Linked DNA regions of Homo sapiens. The protein of the gene in region 1 purifies or fractionates together with the protein of each later gene. This does not show direct contact. Each region holds a gene or a part of one and is shown on either strand. Other genes may lie near its edges.

Region 1 (8,023 bases):
GAGGGTAAAGGTAAAGTTTTGCTGCCCCTACAATTTTTTTTTTGTTGTTGTTGTTTTGTTTTGAGACAGGGTCTCTTGCTCTGTCACCCAGGCTGGAGTGCAGTGGCACGACCACCGCTCCTGCAATCTTGACCTTCCAGGCTCAAGTGATCCTTTCACCTCAGCCTCCCAAGTGGCTGGGACTACAGGCATGTACCACCATGCCCGGCTAAGTTTTGTATTTTTTGTACAGATGGGTTTTTGCCATATTGCCCAGGCTGGTCTGGAACTCCTGGGCTCAGGTGATCTGCCTGCCTCATCCTCCCAAAGTGCTGGGATTACAGCTGTGAGCCACTGCACTTGGCTTATTTTTTAAACAAAACAAAAAATCCATCCCAAAAAATTTGTAGCAAATCATTTGACAATTCATTTCACCACCTATAAAATAAGGTGTTTGGCCTAGAATATCTCTAAGGTTCCTTATAATCTAATATGGCATATTTTGCTTTGTTTTTTTTTTTTGCATATTTTGCTTTGAATGATGAATTATTATTTGCTCAGTCACTAGACAATGATTTTAGTATTTACGCTCTGGCCATTGTGCCATCACTGGACATAGAGTGGGGAACAGGAAAAATATGATTGTTCATTCACCTAGTTTATTGTCAATTGGAGAAATCAAGGGTGGGCACTGCTTGCTATAACCAATCAACTGCACAAAAATGATGAACATGTACCTGTTAGGACAAAGACAGTTTTCTCTGCTCGAGACAGATAAGCTCCATTTTTGTTGTTGTTAAAGTAATAAGGCTTTCCCTGTTACTTTGCAAAACAATTGGAGATCTAACTCAGAACGCTTCAATGAAGTCCTGAATTCCCTGAAATCAGATGGCCGCTAGTCACTCCCAGGATGCTGGAATGGTATTAAAATATTGCCTCTTGGCCGGGTGCAGTGGCTCATGCTGTAATCCCAGCACTTTGGGAGCCCACGGCGGGTGGATCACTTGAGGTCGGTAGTTCAAGACCAGCCTGGGCAACATGGTGAAACCCCATCTCTACTAGAAATACAAAAATTAGCCAGGAGTGGTGGCACAGGCCTGTAATCCCAATGGGAGGCTAAAGCAGGAGAATCGCTTGAACCCGGGAGTCGGAGGCTGCAGCGAGCTGAGATCATGCCACTGCACTGCACTCCAGCCTGGGTGATAGCGTGAGACTCCATCTCAAAAATCAATCAATAAATAAAATTTTTAAAAATATTGTCTCTTGAATCAAATATTCCAGATGGAAGCATGAGGATTTGTACCAGTTATTATCCATTTCTAGGCCTTTTACCAACATAACTTAGGACCATATAGGTGAAAACGGAATGAGGTTCTAAGGAAGGCATGTACTTCCCTTTCATCTTTACAACAGTTCTGCAAAGAAAGTGACATTATCTTTTCTTCTTAGCTGAGAAAACAGGCTCAGAGAGTGAAGTAATTTCATAAAAGTCATGTTGCTAGAAAGTAGTGAAACGCAGTAAACCCAAGTTTGTCTGGCTCCAAATGATTTCATTATTTTCACCACAACATGCTTCTTCCAGTGAGAGAAAGCTTTGAAGCCGTGTTTACCAGAGTCTGTTCTGTGAAGCACTAATAAGGCAAGATGTTACACAAGTGCAAATGGATGCCATGGTCAAGCAACTCTGGGGAATGCCAAGCATATTAAAGCCAGTGAAGTCTTACAGAAAATACATTTTTATTTTTATTTAATCAGCTTTTCCCCCAAACTCATTTGATTACCAAATCTAGATTTTTCTTCATTTAACACTTATTAACATCTCTTGAAACCAATTAAAATAATCTGGTATTTGCTTAGTTAAATGTCTGAAAGAAAGAAGAAAAAGGATTGAATGAGAGCTTTAAATTGGAAATTCAGTTTGCAAAGCAACTAAAATAAAAAACTAGCAGTTATGGGGGAAGCATTTTAAAAAGATACAGTCTGTGCTCCCAGTGCAGCTGGGAGATGGAGATGGTGGGTGGATGGAGAGAGTCAGAGGCAAAAAGGGAAACAGACATGAAACAATTCAGACAGCATATTTCGCTCAAGTTTTTAGTGATTCATGTGGGCTGAAGCTGAAGAAAAGATTGGGAAGAGGAAAGAGGCTTGAGCTGGCCCCTGAGGGATGTTAAGATTTACTCAGGGAGAGAAGAGGCTGGGAGACACTGAAAGAGAAAACAGGTTTGGAGAGTTAAAAAACAAAACAAAACAAAACAAAGCTCAGGAACTATATAGGGAAATAAAATACGACAGGTAGAGTTGGTCTAGATTATGGACAATTACACAGGCCAGGCCAGTGTCTCACGTCTGTAATTCCAGCACTTTGGAAGGCTGAGTCCAGCAGATCACTTGAGCCCACAAGTTTGAGACCAGCCTGGGTAACATGAAGAAACCCTGTCTCTACAAAAAATGCAAAAATTAGCTAGGAGTGGTGGTATGCACCTGTAGTCCCAGCTATTTGGGAGGCTGAGGTAGGAGAACTGCTTGAGCCCAGGAGGTCAAGGCTACAGTGACCCGAGATTGTGCCACTGCACTCCAGCCTGGGTAACAGAGCAAGACCCTGTCTCAAAATAAGTAAATAATAAAAATATAGACAATGATACAGAAATCATTCTGTTGATAATGATGGAAAGGATTAAAATCTGAAAGACTATGTAGACAGTCAATCTGGATAATATGTGCAATTAAAATAGATTTTTGAATTTCACAACTGGAAGGGCTCTTAGAGCAAAGTTAATAAATATCTGTCTAATGAATCAGTCAATCCCTTGCTCTACACATCTGATAACTGAAGCCCAGAGAGGTCACTTGATTTTCCTAATGTCACACAGCTCACTAGCAGCACACCTGAGTTGATAATTCATGTCTTCTGACTATCGAGAGGTACAGTACTCATGAACTGGGCATAAAACAGTGCCAAAGAAAGTGTAGAATATGGAGCATGTGACATAAATCAGCACATCCAACAGAGGGTGGTTTCTGTTTGAAGAGATCTCTTTAAAATAATTAAGACAACGAACCCCAAACCTCCTACTGCAAAAGCAGTACTCTTTTTAACTGTTTCTATCACAACTTGGTCCAATACCTTGTGCAAACAAACATGATATGTATGGAGGTTGCTGTTACTAAAGAAACAAAAATTACAGAAAAAAGAAAATTACATTTCCAAAAGGCAGCATTATCTCTGAAAGAATATGGGCCAGGCATGATATCCATGCCTGTAGTCCCAGCTGCTCGGGAAGCTGAGGTGGGAGGATAGCTTGAGCCTAGAAGTTGGAGGCAGCAGTGGCACTGATGAGGCCATAGTGCCTGCGAATAGCCATGCACTCCAGTCTGAGCAACACAGCAAGACACAGTCTCTACAAAAATAAAAATAGGCTGGGCATGGTGGCTCATGTCTGTAATCCCAGCACGTTGAGAGGCTGAGGCAGGAGGATCTCTTGAGCCCAGGAGTAGAGACCAGCTTGGGTAACACAGTGAGACAGTCTCTACAAAAAATAAAAAATAAGGCCGGGCGCGGTGGCTCACGCCTATAATCCCAGCACTTTGGGAGGCTGAGGCAGGTGGATCACGAGGTCAAGAGTTCAAGACCATCCTGGCCAACATGGTGAAACCCTGTCTCTACTAAAAATACAAAAATCAGCTGGGCATGGTGGCGCACACCTGTAGTCCTAGCTACTCTGGAGGCTGAGACAGGAGAACCTCTTGAACCTGGGAGGCGGAGGTTGCAGTGAGCCGAGATTGTGCCACTGCACTCCAGCCTGGTGACAGAGCGAGACTCCGTCTCAAATAAATAAATAAATAAATAAATAAATAAAATAAAAAAATTAATGGGACGTAGTGGCGCATGGTGGTCCATGCCCATAGTCCCAGCTACTTGGAGGGCTGAGGTAGGAGGATCATTTGAGCCCACGAGTTCGAGGCTGCTGTGAGCCTTGATTACACCACTGCACTCCAGCCTGGGCGACAGAGCGAGACACTGTCTCAAAAATAAAAAAATTTAAAAAGCACATATGAAAGGTAACAGAAAAGTAGAAACTTTCCTGATAAAAGAGCATCTTCTTAAAATCCCTACTCTACCTCATGTTATAATCCTTTTACTTACTACTTAGTATTAAGGATACGTTCCCTATCTGTTTGAAACATGTTTGGCGCTGGGATTTGCTTCAAAGGAAGATACTAACAAGAAATAAGAAATTCCACAATGAAAACCCGCGGTGACCAAAAAGATAACAGTGATTTGGGGTAAAATTTTGACTAAAAAGATTAGGCTAGGCTGCGCGAGCATTTTTGGCCATGAAAGCACAGGAGGATGCTAGAAAAAACAGCACCGTGGAAAAAGCGTTTCCCCAGAAGTCTGGGAGCCCACCTTTGGCATGAAAAGCGGGAGCACAGGTTGTAGTGAGCCAAGATCGTGCCACAGCACTCCAGCCTGGGCAACAGAGCAAGACTCCGTCTCCAAAAAAAAGAAAAAGAAAAAAAGAAAAGTGGGAGCACAGAACAGAAAATACAGAATGCAAGCTGCCAATTATGGGAGAAAGATTATCACTCGGCCCCCAGCTGGCAGGGCCACACGATTACGTGACAAGAGAGTCCGCCTGCAATCGCAGCAGGCGGCTGGCAGAGCCCGGCGCGACCCCCAGCGAAGACTACCACTCCCAACTGCGCACGGGGCGCGCCGCCGGGGCCGCCAGGGCGGCTTCACGCGCAAGGCACTGTGGGACTCGTAGTCTTTCTCCCCACCAGCTCCTCGGAGGCGGAGAGACCCGATTTTTTTGTAAATGATCCGCCCTTCCAGGCCCTGCTTCTCTTTCCTCCCTTTCCCTCCCACCTCCTTCTTTCACCGAGAGTTTGAAAATTCCCGCGGAGCCGGCGCTAGAGCGCGGAACCATCGCGAGAACTCTGGTCCCTGCAGCCGCGATCTCCCGCCGGTTCTCCCCTCCCTCTCCGCCCTTTCCTCTGCTCCCTCCCTTCCGGGGCGTGTGGAACTCGGTTTTGTCGGCGCAGGGTAATGCGCAGAGCGGGGCCGGCGCTGTCCGAGGCGAGCAGGCAGCGTTGCAAGGGGAAGGACCCAGAAGCGCGGCGGGAGCAGCGACTGCGTTTTAGCCGCTGAGCGGTCTGCAGGCCTACAGCCCGCGAAGGCACTCTCGGGGGCGTGTGGCTCTGAGGTGGCCGGGGAGGTCGCAGGCGGCGGCCGGAGCGCAGAGGAGCGGCTTCAGCCGGGCGGAGGGGTGTGAGCCCGGCCCGTGGCGGCCACGTCTCCCGGGAGATGCTGTGACGGACCCGCACGGGAGGAGCTCGCGCCTGGCCTGGCGACCCGGTGGACTCGGCCCGCGGCGGCGCGCTCACCCGCCCCGTTCAGGTAGGGGGAAGGGAGGGAGGGGGTTGGGCCCGCGCGGCGGAGGGCGGGTCGCGCGGCCTGGACCCGCGGCGGCGGCGGCGGCGGCGGCGGCGGCGGCGGGGCTTCTGCCCCGCGAGCGCCGGGCCTAGGCCGGGCGTGCGCGGGGCCAACGGATGGGGCTCGAGGGGGCGAGCGGTGGCGGTGGCGGGTACGGCAGGCTCGCGGGCGCCGGGCTTCGTTACATAATCTCGGACCGGAGGAGCGGCGGCACATGGCGGCGGAGCGGCGCTGGTGGTTCGCGTCCTGCGCCGGCAGTCGGGTCCCTTTACGGACGGCCGGGGCCGCGACCCTTTCCCACTGTTCTCCCACGCGATGGACTCGTTGGCGGGCCTTTCCCCGAGGGAAGCGGCCGGCGTGCTGAGCCTGTCCTGTGTTGGCGTGTGTTCCACATGCGCTTGGGCCTGGCCACAGTGAGTAGTCCTGGCGGGGAAGAAGTTGGACTCGGGGCTCAGCCGTGAGGTTCCAGCTCACCCGATTGGTCAGATCAAGGAGATTTAAAATAAAAGCACATCTTGGGGTGCTTTGCCTTCCTTTTTCCTACCTGGGAAACAGGACGGTTTCTTTTGCCACTGGTTGACTGTTTTGGTTTGGGTGTTTTGTTTTGAGAGATGGGGAAATTTTGTTCTCAAAGCTTACGAGGTTCATACTATCTGTGTGCAAAGTTTTATGAGATGAGCGTTATTTTTATTTCCAAATCGTCAGTTGTAGAAATTTTTGGAAGAACTGGGTTCTTCATAGAACAAAACGTAAATCCTTTGGGGAAATCCTAAACGATATTTATTCTCAGAATATCCTAAAGAACCTGTAGATTTTAAGAACTGTCTTTGGCTGGGCGCAGTGGCTCCTGTCTGTAATCCCAGCACTTTGAGAGGCTGAGGCGGGAGGATCGCTTGAACCCAGGAGTTTGAGACCAGCCTGAGCAACATGGCGAGACCCCCCCTTTTTTTTTTTTAAACTGTTTTTTTGTGAGCTTTCACTGATAGAGTCTCTTAGGAGAGAAGAAATTAGAGTGGTTTACTTATTTCGGAGGATTTGACCTGGGATGACAAGCCCAGTTAAGGTTAATACTTGAAGGGATGTTTTAAGTGTGCCAAGCGCTATGGGAAGTCTACGTTGTCTCTGTACTGTGATTTTTGGATCCTGATCCTTCAGTAACATACTACCAAGCTGTCACGAGTTTGCAAACAACAATAATTATCTTGAAAAAATTTTTAAAACATCATGTCAACCGGGAATTGGTGGCGCCTCTAGTCGCGCGCCTACTTGGGAGGCTGAGGCGGGGGGAACGTTTGAGCTTCAGCCTCAAACTGAGAGTTCGAGGGTTGCAGTGAGCTAGGATCGCGCCGCTGCACTCAGCCTGTGTGACAGAGCGAGAACCTGTTGCTAAAATAAAATAAAAAAGATCGTTATACATCAGTTTTGAGACTTTTGTTTTCTTTTTATGCTTCTCCTTTTTCATAGGTACAGATACATCTTTTTTTTTTTTTGAGACGGGGTCTTGCTCTGTTGCCCAGGCTGGAGTGCAGTGGCACAATCTTGGCTCACTGCAACCTCCGTCTCCCAGGTTCAAGCGATTCTCCTGCCTCAGCCTCCTGAGTAGCTGGGATTACAGGCGCACGCCACCACACCCGGCTAATTTTTGTATTTTTAGTAGAGACGGGGTTTCACCATATTGGCCAGGCTGGTCTTGAACTTCTGACCTCGTGATCCGCCCGCCTTGGCCTCCCAGAGTGCTGGGATTACAGGCGTGAGCCACCGCGCCCGGCTGGTACAGATATATTTTAAGAGGAAGCAAAACGTTGTGTCTTTCACGCCTACCTTTAATATTTTCAGGGACTTTTCTTTCTTCCCAGAATGAAGTGTAACTTCCCTCGGTTAGCTCAAAGGTCTCTACAATAAGTATATGCTACTGTCTATCCTCATATGTTAACAAATTTTATGCTTTTGCTATTCCAGAATCGTCATCAATCCTGGACTCATTCTGTGGAAGAGATGTTTCCACTCTGATGTTTCTTTGCTCATGTCCTTCATCCTGGAGTGCCATCTTTCCTTTTTTAAATACTCAAATTTCAGGTCCTCCTTCTAAATCCAATGTTTTCACTGTATTTTTATTTTTATTTTTATTTTTTTGAGACGGAGTCTCACTTTGTAGCCCAAGCTAGAGTGCAATGGCGTGATCTTGGCTCACTGCAACCTTCGCCTCCAGGGCTCAAGCGATTCTTGTGCCTCAGCCTCCCGAGTAGCTGGGACTACAGGAACGCGCCGCCACACTCGGCTAATTTTTTGTATTTTAGTAGAGACGGGGTTTCACCATGTTGCCCAGGGTGATCTCGAACTCCTGAGCTCAGACGATCTGCCCACCTCGGCCAACCAAAGTGCTGGGATTACAGGCGTGAACCACCGCACCCAGCCCACTGTACTCTTTTATTTCCCCTTATCCCACTTTTTTACTGGGATCTCACAGCATATGTACCTCTATTGTAGTAGCATTTATTCTTTGTGTCTGATACTCTGATAATTGACTATATATCTCCTTTTCTAGATTGTAAACTCCTTAAAGTCAGGAAGAAGGTTATCTTCTTGACCTTGCATTCCTTTACTAAC
Region 2 (2,634 bases), about 17 Mb from region 1:
ATAAGTGTTTGAAATACTTGTTTTCAAGCTTGGGAATACATGAAAACGTTTCAGATCTTATTAAACACTTTAAATAGAATGGCTATTTTGACCACTGGAGGGAAAAACACTCAGGCAGCCCCTGTAAAGGATATCACATTGTTAGACTTGAAAGTATGTTTGACAGATGGAAGGAATTTAGAAGAGAGTATTTCCCAACAGCAAAGTGACGTTATATTTAAATAGAAGCACAGGTGCTTTTGTCATCAATCATCAGAATTCATTTGAGCATTTTATAATAATTGAAAAATGACTTCTTGTGTTTGTGTTTATAGGCATTCAGCTCAGTGAGTACTTACCGGAGGTGAAAGACCTGCTACAAGCGGATCAGCTTGGAAGCTTAAAGTCCAATCCTTACTTCGAGTTTGTTTTGAAAGCAAATTATGAATATTATGTTCAGGGACAAATATAACTTTTTCTAAAAATGGCCATTGTTTATGAAATCTGTATAAGTGTGTCCTTATACAAATTTTAGGCCATAAACAAGTGTAAGTTTGTACAATTTCATAACATGTATAGCTGAGTTTTTATACTTTATATGTAGGAAGCTAATATAAAATAGTTATGTAACTGTGATTTTGGTTTTCAGTTATGTGACTTGTTTTTTCCACCTGAAATGTGTCAGTTGTTGTTCCTGTACTCGGTGCCCTTTCTTTTTACTCTCACGTGGTCCCAGGTTCTGGAGTTCTTGTCCTGGTTCTAGCTGCTCACATGTACAAATCACTTCTAGGCCTCAGTTTCTGCGACTATGAAAATTACTAGATTGCACTAGCTTGTCTCTAAAATTGCTGTGACTCCAGATACTTTGCACTGAAGAGAATCTAGGGTGTTTGATATCTGTTTCAGTTAGGGCTAATGGGAAATGTCTAGTAAGATAAATGTCAACTTTTGCTGACTTATTATGAGATGAAAAACCAAAGGAGAGTGGGCCTAACTCATGTGAGCTTGATAACTGATGAACTCATTGGGAGCATTTTAAACTTTTCTACATAAATAATAAATGAGCACTAATGAAAGTATTTTAGTGAATGAAACGTTTATGTGGTTTTCTAACCTATCTAGAAATTACTGTTGATGTTTAGTTCTAATCTTTCAGTGTGGGGATTCAGCCAGCCTCATGTATTTTCAGAATGACTCATGAATCTTTACCACAGTCTGCCTAGCTAGTCAAAAGCATGAATGATACTAGAAACCATTATAGGTTTTCCTAATATGGCAATTGATGTGACTGAAAGGTACTGTACTCTCAGAGCTTTGTCCTGACCAGTGTCATCACTCACTCAATGTTTATCTGGGTTTTAAATAAAGGCCAGAGGTTGGACAGGGAGTTGCTGGCATGTCCGCGGCTTGGCCCAGTAGAATGCCCACTAACCATCTTGCTCCAGCAGCTGAAAAGGTCAGAAGTTAAACATGGTGAAGAGTCCGGTTCCTGGATTCACAGAGCCCAGCATCAGGCCGTCTCCCCCGCAGGCTGCAAGGCCAGCCCTTGAGTATGTTTGGAAGAGCAGGTTAATGGAGCTGTTTGTAAATCAAAGGGAAGAAATTAGCAGCCTGTTCTTTTTCTCTTTGCAGCTTGTATGTTAGGACAGCATTAGGGTCTGGGTTAGGAACATGTTGGAAGGTACTAAGAGAAGTTAGGAAGAGCAGCTTGTCAGATGGCCAGTAAGAAACCGCTGAGTACTTGTATCGTAAGATGAGGCTTTGCTTTTACGTGGAGGTCAGCTGTCAGTGTTCACGTCTCACCTGTAGGACCCTGTCGGGTGATAATGTGCTGCGAGACACACAGGCTCCCATCTCCCTCCCGTGCTGCTGCAAACCTGGTGATCCCTGGTGTATGGGACAGTACCGCAGGAAAGCCCATCTGATCATGCCCCAGAACCCACTGATCGCGTGGACGTAGAACGACTGCTCTTACCGTGTGAAGTAGAGTCATCCTGTTCAAGGGAAGAAAAAGCTCCCTCTTTTAATCCTGTTTCTCTCTAAGTTAGTAGCTATTACACCCAAATGGTTGAGTTTTTAAAAATTATTTTAACAGTAAAAATGAAATTAAGACCTAGGATTTTGAATAATTTTTTCTCTAGAATTTTAAAAATTGGTTTCACAACGTAGTCTTCATCAACGAGTTATTAATGGTTTTTATATAAATCAAGTAGCTGATAAGTATACAGATGCTGTGTTGACATTTCTGTGGAAAGAGATACTTTACTGACTTGGAAAAGGTTCGTGATCACACCTGTCTATAAGTGCTGCCCTGAGAGTCCCAGCTTGGGACCTTGACAGAATACAAGAGTAAAGTGTCGTGTGCGATCCTGAGCAGAGGGGAGTGTACGCAGGCATGGAGACTGGCGCGTCTGGAGGATTTGTGGACAGAATGGTGTCAAGGATTGCAGCAGACCTGGAGATAGACAGTAAAAACTTGCTGAACTCCTGAGTGAGGTAAAGGCTACTGACGCCTCTCTTTGAGGGCTTTCATTTTTAATGATTGAACTGTGTTTCTTTTTTTACTTTAGGGGCTGAATCGTAGTTTTCCTACCATCACCCACCTACATCCTACACACCTGGACATTTTGAGGCTAACTACAAAAGCAGTGTAGC
Region 3 (2,563 bases), on another chromosome or scaffold:
GGACATATCCTGAAATGACAAATTCTTGTAAGAGTCACTATTGATAGCCCTTTGGCTATCCTGATGCTTTTAGGAATCCTTGCCCCATCACAGAGATTCTTAAAGAGAACCATGTCAAAATTCCTTGCTCTTTGCTTTTTCCTTTGTTAGTTCAAAATCTTCTTATGAAGGGGTAAACAAAACAATTTATATCATTTGGTTATAATATTTAACTGTATTAAAAAATTGACTAGGAAATTGCTATAAAATTTTTCATCTGTACTTTAAAGCATGTAAAAGTTGAACCCAAACATCTACATGGTTATAAAATTTCACTGAATTCTTTCTTTTAATTACCTGGAACATTCTCCTATCTCTTAAAAATATAATGTTCTTGATTCTACAATTATTTTAAGACACCTTAAGAATAGAAAACTGGAGTAAAAAATATTTACTGGCATTAAACATAAATCTCTAAAACCTCAAAAATAAGACCTACTCATCTCTGAAATAAATAATTTCTATACATCTCTGAACCACGTGACAGACACATACTAGGTATTTTCATTCACCTTTATTTAATCTTTACAGCAACTCCACAAAATAATGATTCCTATCTGTACTTTACAAGAGGAAATGAAGCTTCAAAAAGGGCATTAACTTGCAGGAATGGGCAGTTTGTCAAAATGTATTGGATTCTGTATGTGACTGACAAGCAGAACCATAATTTTATATGCTTCTGACTGTACCATGATGTATCCCAAAAATGTGATACAGCTGTCTTAGATAACGTTGATTTTAATGATCTTTGAGAGGGTGAACACAGTTCCATTGCCAACAGGTCCCATCTCAAAAACACTTAAGTTTCTTGGTAAGAACAGTGAAAATTCACAAAAAGGAGGCTGTTAAAGGTATACACTAGAAGTCATTTTTCAAGGTAACTTTTGATCCCATATATCAGATGTTCTAAGACTGTTAGAACACCTCGTCCAAAGGAATCTGCGTATAATAAACAGGGTTGAGCAATATAATCAATCACATATTTAAGAAACTGAAAACAATTTTTTACATTAAATTGAGTACACATACACATATATATACTCAACAACCACTTCCAGAATACCCTAAGATATTTTTTTCTCCTTGGATTTTTTTTCTTTTGAGATAGTCTCGCTCTGTCGCCCAGGCTGCAGTGAAGTGGCACGATCTTGGCTCACTGTAACCTCTGCCTTCCAGGTTCAAGTGATTCTCCTGCCTCAGTCTTCCAAACCATGCTTGGCTAATTTTTTTTATTTTTATTTTTTTAGTAGAGATAGGGTTTCACCATGTTGGCCAGGTTGGTCTTGAACTCCTCACCTCAAGTGATCCACTCCCTTCAGCCTCCCAAAGTGTTGGGATTACAAGTGTGAGCCATTGTACCTGGCCTTTTTTTCTCTTTTGATAAATGTGTCCCTGAGAATTAGAAAAACAGCATATACTCAAAGTATAGAAAACAGGATACACTTCAAATACTCCTTTTTTGATAAACTCAAAAGCATTATTTTTCCTTAGTCATCTCTTCTCTGGAGGTGAGCTGCTGAGTCAATATGATTTTGTAAGATTAAAAATATATATATATACACACACAGAGAACAGAGTAGAAAAATAATTTTTCAAACCATCAACATTTTATTTAATAAAAGCAACTGAGACATTTTCTAAAGTATACGGTATATTTGATATAAAAATTCTTCAAAATATGTACTATAGAAATTCTTCAAAATATGTACTAAAAATACAAAGTTTGTGAATCTAAGGTACAGAAAACACTTTATACTTCAGTCACCCAAAACAACAGCTTGTGGTCTCCTCCAATTACACACAGAGGGAGAGTTCGATGCCAGGACAGTCCAGATCCAACGGCTACAGAACCCATGAGGATGGGCTATAAAATATGTGAAGAATTAAAGAAGCACAGTAAGTCCCCAAAATTAATAAATAAAAATGACTTTCAAAAATATGAAATGCATTGATGATTTATCTTTGTAGCATAAACAAAATTTAAAAATATGCTCCCTTACAGGTGAAATACACATTATTGATACGCAGCTGAAACATGGGATACAATCCATCTATGAATAACTGGTACAGTCCAGACTCCATTTTTGCAGTCTACACCAACCAAACAAGCAAAATTAATGTATTTAAATAAAGAAGAAAATATAAAAGCAACAGAATAAAAAGCTTCTTATATGAATACTGGCCAAAAAAACCTGTTGTCACTGGTAATGTAAACATCAAAAAAAAACCACACAAAAAACAAAAACAAATGAACCACCTTTTCTTGCAATTTAAGCAGATAACAAACGTAAATGTCTTCAGTCAACAAATTACAAATTTGGGGCTATGAGTGGAAAAGTCAAAAACACAAATTAAAAAAAAAAAAAGCACGTATGTTACAAAACATTTCCACATTACCTGAGGGTGTCCTAAATGATGAATTTGAAACTGGCTTGCCATTTTGCCAGGATAACCAGTGGTTGCAAACAGATTTTCACTAATTGTGGACCACCTAAGAAATAAGGAAGCGTAAAATTAAGTATCG

The links. Proteins that work in one complex are often made in the same cells at the same time.
Region 2: the proteins of AHCTF1 (region 1) and NUP133 purify together in Homo sapiens (affinity purification with western blotting; 3 studies listed by BioGRID, with this or other methods). This does not show direct contact.
Region 3: the proteins of AHCTF1 (region 1) and NUP37 purify together in Homo sapiens (affinity purification with western blotting; 2 studies listed by BioGRID and IntAct, with this or other methods). This does not show direct contact.

The regions. Positions count from the first base shown.
Region 1 is NC_000001.11:246,928,935-246,936,957, reverse strand, and holds the start of AHCTF1 (protein ELYS), read left to right. Parts: upstream 1-5,009; 5' UTR 5,010-5,380; intron 5,381-5,599; exon of another isoform or gene 5,600-5,630; coding exon of another isoform or gene 5,631-5,650; exon of another isoform or gene 5,651-5,731; coding exon of another isoform or gene 5,732-5,829; intron 5,830-8,023. UniProt on the Homo sapiens protein: Required for the assembly of a functional nuclear pore complex (NPC) on the surface of chromosomes as nuclei form at the end of mitosis. May initiate NPC assembly by binding to chromatin and recruiting the Nup107-160 subcomplex of the NPC.
Region 2 is NC_000001.11:229,439,721-229,442,354, reverse strand, and holds the end of NUP133 (nuclear pore complex protein Nup133), read left to right. Parts: intron 1-314; coding exon 315-451; 3' UTR 452-2,096; downstream 2,097-2,634. UniProt on the Homo sapiens protein: Involved in poly(A)+ RNA transport. Involved in nephrogenesis.
Region 3 is NC_000012.12:102,072,565-102,075,127, forward strand, and holds the end of NUP37 (nucleoporin Nup37), read right to left. Parts: intron 2,531-2,563; coding exon 2,437-2,530; intron 1,904-2,436; coding exon 1,790-1,903; 3' UTR 539-1,789; downstream 1-538. UniProt on the Homo sapiens protein: Component of the Nup107-160 subcomplex of the nuclear pore complex (NPC). The Nup107-160 subcomplex is required for the assembly of a functional NPC.